Regions from separate parts of the Homo sapiens genome. Here region 2 is linked to region 1. Evidence: fine-mapped QTL for protein levels in blood plasma. A gene starts in region 1. The other region holds a variant in brackets. All regions are shown on one strand. Distances are from middle to middle.

Region 1 (5,304 bases):
TGGTTCCTGAGAATTGAAGTGAAAATCTCAGATGCCATCTCCACGTAAAGGGGAAATCATGGGATTTTTTTTCTACCAGGTTGTAATTCACCAGATGACATAAAACTATATTAATTTTTACCAGATTCTCTTTGAGGCCAGGAACCATGTTTTACAAATCTTGAAAACTAGCAATGTGATCACTCGGCACGTAGTAGATGCTCAGTAAAGATTTCATTTTTTCATTCTTTGACTGGCATACACTAGATGGTAGAAAATAGATTACTGCCTGGTGTGGGGTGTGGGCTGATGACCTGACATGGAATAGAATGTTTTCTCTCTTTCTTTCTTTCTTTTTTTGTAGACAGGGTCTCGCTATGTTGTTCAGGCTGCCCTCAAACTCCTGGACTGAAACGATCCTCTCATCTCAGCCTCCAAAAGTGCTGGCATTACAGGTATGAGTCACTGTGCCCCACTAAGATGAGTGTTTTCTATTGTTTAATTAATTTATGTTTTGAGACAGAGTTTCACTCTGTTGCCCAGGCTGGAGTGCAGTGGCACGATTTCAGCTCACTGCAACCTCTGCCTCCCAGGGTTCAAGCAATTCTCCTGTCTCAGCCTCCCGAGTAGCTGGGACTGCAGGCCTGCACCACCACACCTGGCTAAGTTTTGTATTTTCAGTAGAGAAGGGGTTTCACTATGTTGGCCAGGCTGGTCTCGAACTCCTGACCTCAGGTGATCCGCCTGCCTCGGCCTCCCAAAGTGCTGGGATTACAGGTGTGAGCCACTGCGCCCAGCCTATTTATTTATTTACTTATTTATTTACTTTATATATTTTTTGGAGACAGAGTGTGGCTCTGTTGCCCAGGCTGGAGTGCAGTGGTGCAATCTCTGCTCACTGCAACTTCTGCCTCCCGGGTTCAAGCGATTCTCGTGCCTCAGCCTCCCTAGTAGCTGGGACTACAGGTGTGTGCCATGATGCCCAGCTGATTTTTGTATTTTTAGTAGAGAGGGGTTTCACCATGTTGGCTAGGCTGGTCTCGAACTCTTGGGCTCAAGTGATCCACCCGCCTCGGCCTCCCAAAATGCTGAGATTACAGACCTGAGCTACTGTCCCCAGCCAGAAGACATAACTTTTAGAGGCTACAGGATCTGGGTACAGAGTGAGAGTGGCAAAAGGCAGGGCAGGGGTTTGGGAGAGGGTTGCAGAGAACCCCGAGGGAGAAGCTGAATAAGAGAAGGGGAGACTGGGCCTGCATCGGGGAGGGAGGAGGGAATTCCCAGCTCCAGCCTGGTCTGCCTGGCTCCAGTGAAGCCGGCTGTTTCCTGCCCTCGGTGACCGGCCCACCCCCCCCAACCCGGGCGCAGGACCCAGGCAGAACAGCAAGGAAGGGCAGGGGTGTGGGGAACACCTCTTGCAGCAGGAAGATAAGTAAGCCGGGACAAGAGGTTATCACAGGCCCGGCTGTCCTTTCTGGGACGTAAGGGCGCTTGGCAGCCCCCCAAGCATCCTGGACTCCAACGTCTCTCTTGCTGGGCTCCAACGTCTCTCTTGCTGGGCTCCTCAAGATTCTGTCCTCCGGCTGGGCGCGGTGGCTAACGTCTGTAATCCCAGCACTTTGGGAGGCCAAGGTGGGTGGATCACTTTAGGTCAGGAGTTCGAGACCAGCCTGGCCAACATGGCGAAACCCTGTCTCTACTAAAAATACGAAAACTAGCCGGGGTTGGTGCCCTGTGCCTGTAATCCCAGCTACTCGGGAGGCTGAGGCAGGAGAATCGCTTGAACCTGGGAGGCGGAGGTTGCAGTGAGCCCAGATCACGCCACTGCACTCCAGCCTGGGAAATAGAGGGAGACTCTGTCTCAAAAAAAAAAAAAAAATCTGTCCCCGCTAATTACTGTGGGAGTCTAAGTCCTTTCCTTCTGCCCCTTGGAGGGGCTGACTCCTGGAGCAGCACCCCCTCCAATCCATCTATCCAGTAACCCATACTGTTAAGTTCCCTGAAGTAGAAGGGGGTTGGTGGGAGGAGCACGGCTGTGCTGGACCCTCCCCGCTAACTGATGGGAGGGTGAGGGGAGTTGGCAGTGAGAGGAAGGGCCCCTCCCAGCCATCCCGAGGGCCCCCAGGAGCCAGACAGGAAACAGCTCAGGAAAGACAGCAGCCGCAGCCGCAGCCCCAGCCTCAGGGGTCATGGCTGCGGGCGGCGGGGAAGCCCCCCCAAAACACGAGAGTGAGAGTGAGAAGGGCGATTTGGAGATCTAGCCGGACCCCTCACCCTCTCGGACACACCCACCTTTTTTTTTTTTTTTTTTTTTTTTGAGATTTCGTCTCACTCTGTAGCCCAGGCTGGAGTGCAGTGGCGCGATCTCAGCTCCCAGCTCACTGCAACCTCCGCCTCCTAGGTCCCGGTTCAAGCAATTCTCCTGCCTCAGCCTCCCGAGTAGCTAGGATTACAGGCGCGCGCCACCATGCCCAGCTAATTTTTGTATTTTTAGTAGAGACGGGGTTTCATCATGTTGGCCAGGCTGGTCTTGAACTCCTGACCTCAAATGATCCGCCTGCCTCTGCCTCCCAAAATGCTGGGACTACAGGCGTGAGCCACCGCGCCCGCCACACCCACCTTTTCTTTACCGTTGTTTCCTCGATTTTTCTCTACTCCCTAGCGCAGCTTAGTGCGCGCCTCCTCTGGACATTTTTCAGGGCTTGGTTGCGCGCACAGTAGGTCCCCAACACTGAATGTTTATGGGGTGACTGTGTGAACGTTCGCTGCAAGGCTATCCAAACTGGGATTGCTCCTTGAGGCCCCCTGGGCGGCCGTCAATTCTCCAAAGCTTCTACTCCCTTTTCCTTCCTTTTCCCCCAAAACGCAGTCCCTGCGCCCACTAGAGGGTGGTGGGCGCATCCAAGAGCGGCATCTAGAGTCCGCAGCAAGGTCAGAGCGGGCTTTGTGTGCGCGGTGAACATTTACGTGCACGCCTGGGCGGCCCTCCGTGTTGCTGCTGGGTGTGTGTTTTCTCTGCTCCCTGGTGCCAGCCGGGTTCGGGCCTGTCCCGGGGGTCCCTGGGCCCCAGCCCCGACATGCTCGGTCCTGGACAGCGCGCACCGCCACGGCGCACATCTGGGCGGTCCCGGGGTTCCTCACCCGCCGCCCCTCCCCCTTCTCCAAACTTTCTCTCAACTTCCCGACCTGCTCCACTCGGTGCCCCTCTCCGCTTCCCTCATGAATTATTCAGTAGCGTGAGCTCCAATCAGCGCGCCCGGGGCTCACTCGCGGAGCCCCCGCGTTGGGAGAGCTGCCCCCGCCCCCCGCGCGCCCCTCCCTCCCGGGCCCGGCGCCGCCCGGCCCAGTTCCAGCGCAGCTCAGCCCCTGCCCGGCCCGGCCCGCCCGGCTCCGCGCCGCAGTCTCCCTCCCTCCCGCTCCGTCCCCGCTCGGGCTCCCACCATCCCCGCCCGCGAGGAGAGCACTCGGCCCGGCGGCGCGAGCAGAGCCACTCCAGGGAGGGGGGGAGACCGCGAGCGGCCGGCTCAGCCCCCGCCACCCGGGGCGGGACCCCGAGGCCCCGGAGGGACCCCAACTCCAGCCACGTCTTGCTGCGCGCCCGCCCGGCGCGGCCACTGCCAGCACGCTCCGGGCCCGCCGCCCGCGCGCGCGGCACAGACGCGGGGCCACACTTGGCGCCGCCGCCCGGTGCCCCGCACGCTCGCATGGGCCCGCGCTGAGGGCCCCGACGAGGAGTCCCGCGCGGAGTATCGGCGTCCACCCGCCCAGGGAGAGTCAGACCTGGGGGGGCGAGGGCCCCCCAAACTCAGTTCGGATCCTACCCGAGTGAGGCGGCGCCATGGAGCTCCGGGTGCTGCTCTGCTGGGCTTCGTTGGCCGCAGCTTTGGAAGGTGAGTTTCCTTGCGGGGGGGGGCGCACCCCGTCACTCCTGGGACCTCCCCCCCAACATCTGGGCCTCGGAGTGGAGGGGCCGGCCTCTGACTACCCCTACCCGGGCACTGCAGTCCCAAACACTTCGGACCGATAGTGCTGGAACGGGAGGGGGGCGGGGAAGAGGCGCCCGACGGGTAGTGGAGTTTTCTTTTGTTTGGGAAAGAGATGGAGTCTGGCTACGACCCGGGACATTCCCCTGCCCGGGCTCCCCGAACTCTCACTGCTGATTACATACGCCCCTGGCTGCCTTTCCTTTCCTCCCTACCCCACTATTCAAAACTATCTGCAAAGTTTCTGTCCCAGTCCCACCTCCCGCCGTACATGAGGGAAGGTTTCTGGAGAAGCAACAGCAGACAAGGCACAACTTTTCGTGCTAGGCCCTAAAACGACCCCCAGCGCCAATTCCTTAGCGATCACACCTTGATCCTCCAGTTCCACACTCCTGCAACAGGATGGCCTCCTTTGCATTCACACAGCAAACCCCCAAACCGCTCTCCCGCCCACTGCTCCTGCCCCTGGTATAGGGTGGCTCCTTGGTTTCTACAGGCTGCACCCCATCCCTTTAAATGCGGTCTAGACCCCGGCCCCAGGTGAGTCCCGGGCTTCCCTTGAGACCTAGGAGCGGGTAGAAACTGACCTACACAGCCCCCAGGTAGAAACTGACCTACACAGCCCCCACATCGCCCTAACTAACCCAGTCTATCTCCCACCTCCTGGTCTCTCCAAGCATTTCTTTGGCCATGGATCGCTGTCCCTCCTGGTCCCCTAAAGGGGGAGCCAAGAGCCCTAGAAACTCTCCTGTGTCCCTAATGTCCTTTCAGTGAGCTGCCAACACCCCCCTTTCTCTGTCTGGTATGAAAGTGGTTATGGGGCGGTAGGCTATGAGGGACTCCCAAAGGGAAGGATTCAGCGGCGTTAGAAAAACCCTCTCCCCCTGGCTGGGCAGGACTGCCCTGGGCTGGGGATCAAAGGCTAGGTGTGGGGTTGGGAGTGAGGGGAGGCTTGCCCAGCTCAGAGAACGGAGAAGGGGGAACAAAAACCATGAACGAGGGGAAGAGGAAGGCCAAAGGGGTGGAAAAACCACGAGGACGAGGTGTGGTGAGAAGGAAAGACGCAAAGAGGAAATGGTGATTGTGACACCTATTACCTGAGTGTTTCCAAGCACCAGGCCTGTGCTGAGCGCCTTACAAATATTAATTTCACCCATCCAGCAACGCTAAGGGTGGTGCTATTATTGCCCCCATTTTTCAGATGAGGAGGCTGGGGCTTAGTTAAGGTTAAGTAGTTTATCCAAGGCCCTGTGCCGCGAGGAACAGCGAGAAGTGGAGGCCGAAAGCGAAGGAGAGATAGTGACTGTCAGAAAGAGAAACGGAGGTGGACAGAGAGTGGAGG
Region 2 (5,360 bases), 120 kb before region 1:
AATCCGTGGGTCATTTTGTTACATCACTCATGTAAGCTACTCACTCACCCATTTTCCAGGCAGCATCACAGAGGGCAGGGCATATTACAGCTGACTCCTGCATCAGAGGCAGCTTGGAGCTGGGTGCTTTGTGGTGCTGGAGACGACTGCCTGTCTGCTCCTAGGGGAGCAGTGGGGCATGGGAGCCCTCATTCCTCACCGGGCCTTGGCCTTGTCATGGCAGGTCCTCCTGTCCTGATATAGCCGAGCTGGGCAGAGCCTCCCTCCCCTCCCTTCCCTCCTCTGGTCACACCCAGGCTCCTCCTCCCTCTGCCCCTTCCTCTCCTCCCCCTGCTACTGCCTGGAGTGCTCCCATCCCCCCATTAACCTTCTGCTCCCACCACTGCTTCTCCCGGCACCCTGCTGCTGTCTGGGCTGACTCCGCTTTCAAAGAGAAAAAGAGAGAACCCAGCCATGTCCTGGCAGGGGGCGCATCACAAAAACCAGGAGACAGGGAAAGCTGAACAAAGAGGGCCAGGCACGGTGGCTCATGCCTGTAATCCCAGCACTTTGAAAGGCCAAGGCAGGAGATCACTTGAGGTCAGGAGTTCGAGACCAGTCTGACCAACATGGTGAAACCCTTTCTCTACTAAAACAAAATACAAAAATTAGCCAGGCGTAGTGGCGTGTACCTGTAGCTGAGGCAGGAGAATCGCTTGAACCCAGGAAGCAGAGGCTGCAGTGAGCTGAGATGGTGCCACTGCACTCCAGCCTGGGTGACAGAGCAAGACTCCATCAAAAACAAAAACAAAAACAAAAACAAAAAACTGCCCAGAGAACACCAAAGAGAAACAGGCTAAGCTCACACACTAATGACTTCAAAGGGCATGGAGTGAGGACTAGGTGAAGAGGCAGAGAGACAGCATAGAAAAGGAAACTTCCAGAAGGAGCTACCTCAGCAGTCAGGCGTGATGAGTTCTGGAGACCTTAAGGCTTAGCAGTGAGTGTTCATCACACAAATAGACATATTTTTCTATACTATTCCCTTTTGGCCGTGGGATTCATTAGTTTACAAGCATGAACCCCAGCATGTGGATTTCAACCCATTTCACAATTTGTCAGAGTTAGGATCAGAGATCCGGCTGTCGGGGGTGTCAGGGACAAGGAAGACAGGCAGCCACAGCAGATGGGAAGTGGGAGGTACCCGACCTGCTACCCCTCACCTCGGGCACAGCCCATCTTGTGGCTGAGAGCTGGGGTGTCACGTCTCAACCTAGCTCGTGGGTGCCAGGGAAGTGGGGTCAGGGATTATGAGAATCCCCAGGCTACAGCCCTTGGCTCCAGGATGTGGCCCTGGAGGTGACTGAGAAGGGGACTCATGGGCCTGTAGGCTGGGTGGCCTGGGATCGGGGATCAGAAGCAGACACTGAAGTACAGAGAAAAGAGAAGTATAGAGGAATTGCGAGGTGTTCCTGCAGGGCAGAAGAGAGAAGCCTGGGACCCCACGACGGGTAGTCTCAGACGCACCCTTGGAAGCGAAGTGGACATCAGGAGCTCCCTGCCCCGGCCCTGGTACCAACAGCTGTACCCAGACACATGGGCCCTGGCCGGGGTAAGAGAGTGACGGCAGAGCTGGGGAGGAGCCGCCGGGGGACAAAAGGCAGAGAGGCTGAAACCAGAGGACCGAGACCAGGGGTAGAAGTTAGAGGGCTGTCAGGGAGGGAGAGGCCAGTGTGAAGGGGACACTCAAGCTGGGGGCGTGAGGCAGGTGACAGAAGGAGTCAAGACAGGAAGGGCACTGCTCTGGGAAGACGTAAATCCCACCCTCTACCCTCCAGCTGCAGATACAGATTGGGGCTCAGCCGCTGCAACCTGCTCAGTGCTTGGTGGAGAGTGGCAGAGACCCAGCTCCCTCACTCTTTCCCAACCTCGGTTTTCCCTGCACCTGGAGCTCTGGAAGAAACCTCTCCTCACCGCCCCCTCCCCCAGTCAGGCCGTGCCTCGGTTCTCCCTGCACCCAGAGCCCCAAGCGGTGCCTTCTTATCCCCCCTCCCCAGGCCTTACAGCCACTTTTCCCTCCCCTTTCCTGGAACATCACATCAGGAGCTTTTCTCCAACCCCCTTCCGCCTCTCCCCCTTACCTGTGGCCCACGGGGAGGCCTTGAGCATCCAGAGGAGGCCGAGGAGCCCCAACAGCTGCATGGGCCCAGCGGGCAGGGGGCTGGGGCAGAACAGGCTTCAGGACCAAGACAGCGGCAGGGACGTGGCCCTGGGGCGTGCACGTAATGAAAGTGCTGGTTATCGGTTTTGCTGAGCGTCAGGGCTGAGCACAGCCTCACCTTTGCACCGCCCCACCTCTCCCCTCTTCCTCCCTTCTCCCTGCACCCGGACAGACAGACGTCAGCGCTGTGGGAAGCGGGACACGGGGGAAAAAGATAGGACAAGTCCAGGAAGTGTCAGGCAGGAAGAGCTGCTATTGGCTCAGCCCCACAGCCTGCCTGGCCCACATGGAACTGCCTGGAAGCTGCCCTTCCTCCCCGACACCCGTGGAGGGTACCCTTGACCGAGGGCTTGGACTCTGGAGTCTGGTCCTACTCCTGCAGCCTCTCCTGAGTTTCAATTCCTCCTGCTGGGGAGACAGTGGCACCTCGCTCTCCTTCAAGCCCCTTCTGTCCCTCAGTCTGCCCCTGCTCCATCCTGTCCCCCGCAGGACCCCATAGGCCAGAAAAAACCGTGGGAGTAATTAACACAGAATTCCATCTGAAGTCATTTTATTATCTGAAGAGTTGGGGCTAGGTCCCAGAAAAGGAAACATGGATGACCAAAGGAAACACTCAAAAATACTAGTCTGGGCCCGGCGCGGTGGCTCACGCCTGTATTCCCAGCACTTTGCAAGGCTGAGGGGTGTGGATCACTTGAGGTCACGAGTTCGAGACCAGCCTGGGCAAAATGGCAAAACCCCATCTCTACTAATAGGCTGAGGCAGAAAAATCGCTTGAA[A/C]CCAGAAGGTGGAGGGTGCAGTGAGCCAAGAGCACACCACTACACTCCAGCCTGAGCAACAGAGCGAGACTCCATCTCAAAAAAAAAAAAAAAAAAAAAAAACTGGTTTGGACCCAGCACATTGTTTGACCTATCCAGTTTGGGCAAAGGTGTGAAGAATAAACGTTCTTACCCAGCTGGTGGATGTGTAGGTGGGTTGGGTTGTTTTAAAAGAGTAATTTGAGGATCACTTGAGGTCAGGGGTTCGAGACTAGACTGGCCAACATAGTGAAACCCCATCTCTACTAAAAATACAAAAATTAGCCTGGCGTGGGGTGGGCACCTGTAATCCCACCTACTTGGGAGGCTGAGGCAGGAGAATTGCTTGAACCCCAGAGGCAGAGGTTGCAATGAGCTGAGATCGTGCCTCTGCACTCCAGCCTGGGCAACAGAGCGACACTTCATTTCAAAAACAAGATAAAGTAAAACAAATGTTCTTATCCAGCTGGTGGGTGTGTAGGTGGGTTGGGTTGCTTTAAAGGGGTAATTTGGTGGCATCTATTAAAATTTTAAATGAGTGCCTTAGGACCCAGCAATTTCACCCTCCATCTCTGTGTCCAAGAAACCCTTCAAGGCAGCATTCATGAGGATGTTTATTGACTCTCGATTATGGCAATTTTGATGGAAATTGGAAACAGCCCAAACGATTGTTTCAACCCAGAAAGAAGATGGAATAGTCACCCTACAGAACACTGTGCTCAGGCCAGATTCAGTGGCTTACGCCTGTAATTCCAGCACTTTGGGAGGCCGGGGCAGGAGGATCTCTTGAGCCCAAATGTTCCAGGCCAGCCTGGGCAACATGCCAAGACCCCATCTCTACCAAAAAAAAAAAAAAAACACAAAAAAAATTAGCCAGGCATAGTGGTGTGCCCCTGTGGTCTCAGCTACTTGGTAGGCCAAGATGGGAGGATCACCTGAGCCCAGGAGGTCAAGGCTCCAAAGAGTCATGATCGAGCCACTGCACTCCAGCCTAGGTGACAAAGCAAAAACCTGTCTCAAAAAAAAAAAATTATGAATATAAAATTAGGTCAGGGCCAGGCACAGTGGCTCACATCTGTCATCCCAGCACTTTGGGAGGCCGAGGTGGGCGGATCACTTGATGTCAGGAGTTTGAGACAAGCCTGACCAACATGGCGAAACCCCGTCTCTACTAAAAATACAAAGATTAGCCGGGCATGATAGTGCACTCCTGTAATCCCAGCTACTCAGGAGGCTGAGGCAGGAGAATTGCTTGAACCCAGGGGGTGAGGGTTGTAGTAAGCCAAGATCCCGCCACTGCACTCTGGCCTAGGTGACAGAGTGAGACTCCGTCTCAAAAAAAAATTATAAAATAAAATTAGGTCAGACCAGGCACAGTAGCTCACACCTGTAATCCCAACACTTTGGGAGATCAAGGCGGGATAATCACTTGAGGCTAGGAGCTCAAGACCACCCTGGGCAATATAGCGAGACCCATCTCTACAAAAAAAAAAAAAAGATAAAAAGAAAAATAGATCTAAATAGGTCTGACCATCCCTAAGGGAAGAAGCTTTGCGGAGAGAAACTGCAGCTCTTCCTCTTCCCAGCAGGCCCAAGGGACAGGATTGCAAAGGCAGCCAGCGAACTCTCTGAGGCCAGGCCCGCTGGGAGATCTTCGTGAGGGGCTGTGCCTCTCATGTCTCCTGGGGGACCTTGTCCTTATCGAGAGTCACTGAAGGGACCCTAAATAAGAGGCGCTGTGCATACCCACCAAGTGACACTGCCTGCGCATCGGTTGTGCAAATGGCTGCACCAAAATCCAGGGGACACATTGTATAGCCCTGGCCTCAGTGTGTGTGGTCAAGTTGAGGAAGTGAGCAAAGAAATGAAAAGCTAAAGAGTCCAAATGAGGTGGAGCTCAGAGCCCGACAATGACACCACTGGGGGTAACTCAGGGGAGGGGCCAACAGGGAGCAGGGCTACTCTTGGGGTCTTCCACTTCAATTTCTTAATACATTTGATCAAGTTGCCCAGCATGAAGATACTCGTTTGCAAAAAGTTTTGTTGTTGTTTTTCAGAGCAGTCTCTGTGGAAACTGCTGAGCCACATGGTCAAGCACCACAGCCAGCCAAGACGCTGCAAACCAAGCTGGAGGTTTCGGGGGTTTCCAGTCTTTTTTTTTTTTTTTTTTAAGTATCAAACACCATAAAATTCCCATCACTGTTCTGGAGACACAGACGTAAATGGAAAATGGATTCCTGTTGTAAGTAAAGATCACCAGGCTCCTGGGGAGATGGATCCCAGATCTACCCCCATCCACCACCCCTTCTGTCCATCACCTCTCTAATACCCACACCCCCTTCTGCTCCAGCCACCAGACCCCC

Which allele goes with the higher level. Positions count from the first base shown, and alleles are read on the strand shown. Strength reflects both the effect of a copy and how common the allele is.
With allele C in place of A in region 2, the plasma level of the protein whose gene starts at base 3,325 in region 1 is lower (strong association).

Evidence for each region. PIP is the chance, under the fine-mapping model, that this variant and not a neighbour inherited with it causes the effect. Protein levels are from antibody-based Olink assays in UK Biobank. Linkage for the fine-mapping came from a reference panel and not from the study's own genotypes, which makes the PIPs less certain.
Region 2: its variant is fine-mapped to the plasma level of the EPHB4 protein (UK Biobank, PIP above 0.99).

Annotation. Positions count from the first base shown.
Region 1 is chr7:100,825,544-100,830,847 of GRCh38, reverse strand. It overlaps EPHB4 (EPH receptor B4), which reads left to right and starts at 3,325. Exons shown (of 17, transcript NM_004444.5): 1 at 3,325-3,869. The coding sequence starts at 3,818. It also overlaps a transcript of SLC12A9 not described here. RefSeq lists enhancers at 934-1,729, 2,526-3,321.
Region 2 is chr7:100,946,446-100,951,805 of GRCh38, reverse strand. It overlaps MUC3A (mucin 3A, cell surface associated), which reads right to left and starts at 2,272. Exons shown (of 12, transcript NM_005960.2): 1 at 2,121-2,272. The coding sequence starts at 2,181. It overlaps LOC105375431 (a long non-coding RNA gene), which reads left to right. Exons shown (of 3, transcript XR_007060457.1): 2 at 5,055-5,239. RefSeq lists enhancers at 180-725, 776-1,754, 1,755-2,733. The variant A/C (reference allele first, on the strand shown) is at 2,980.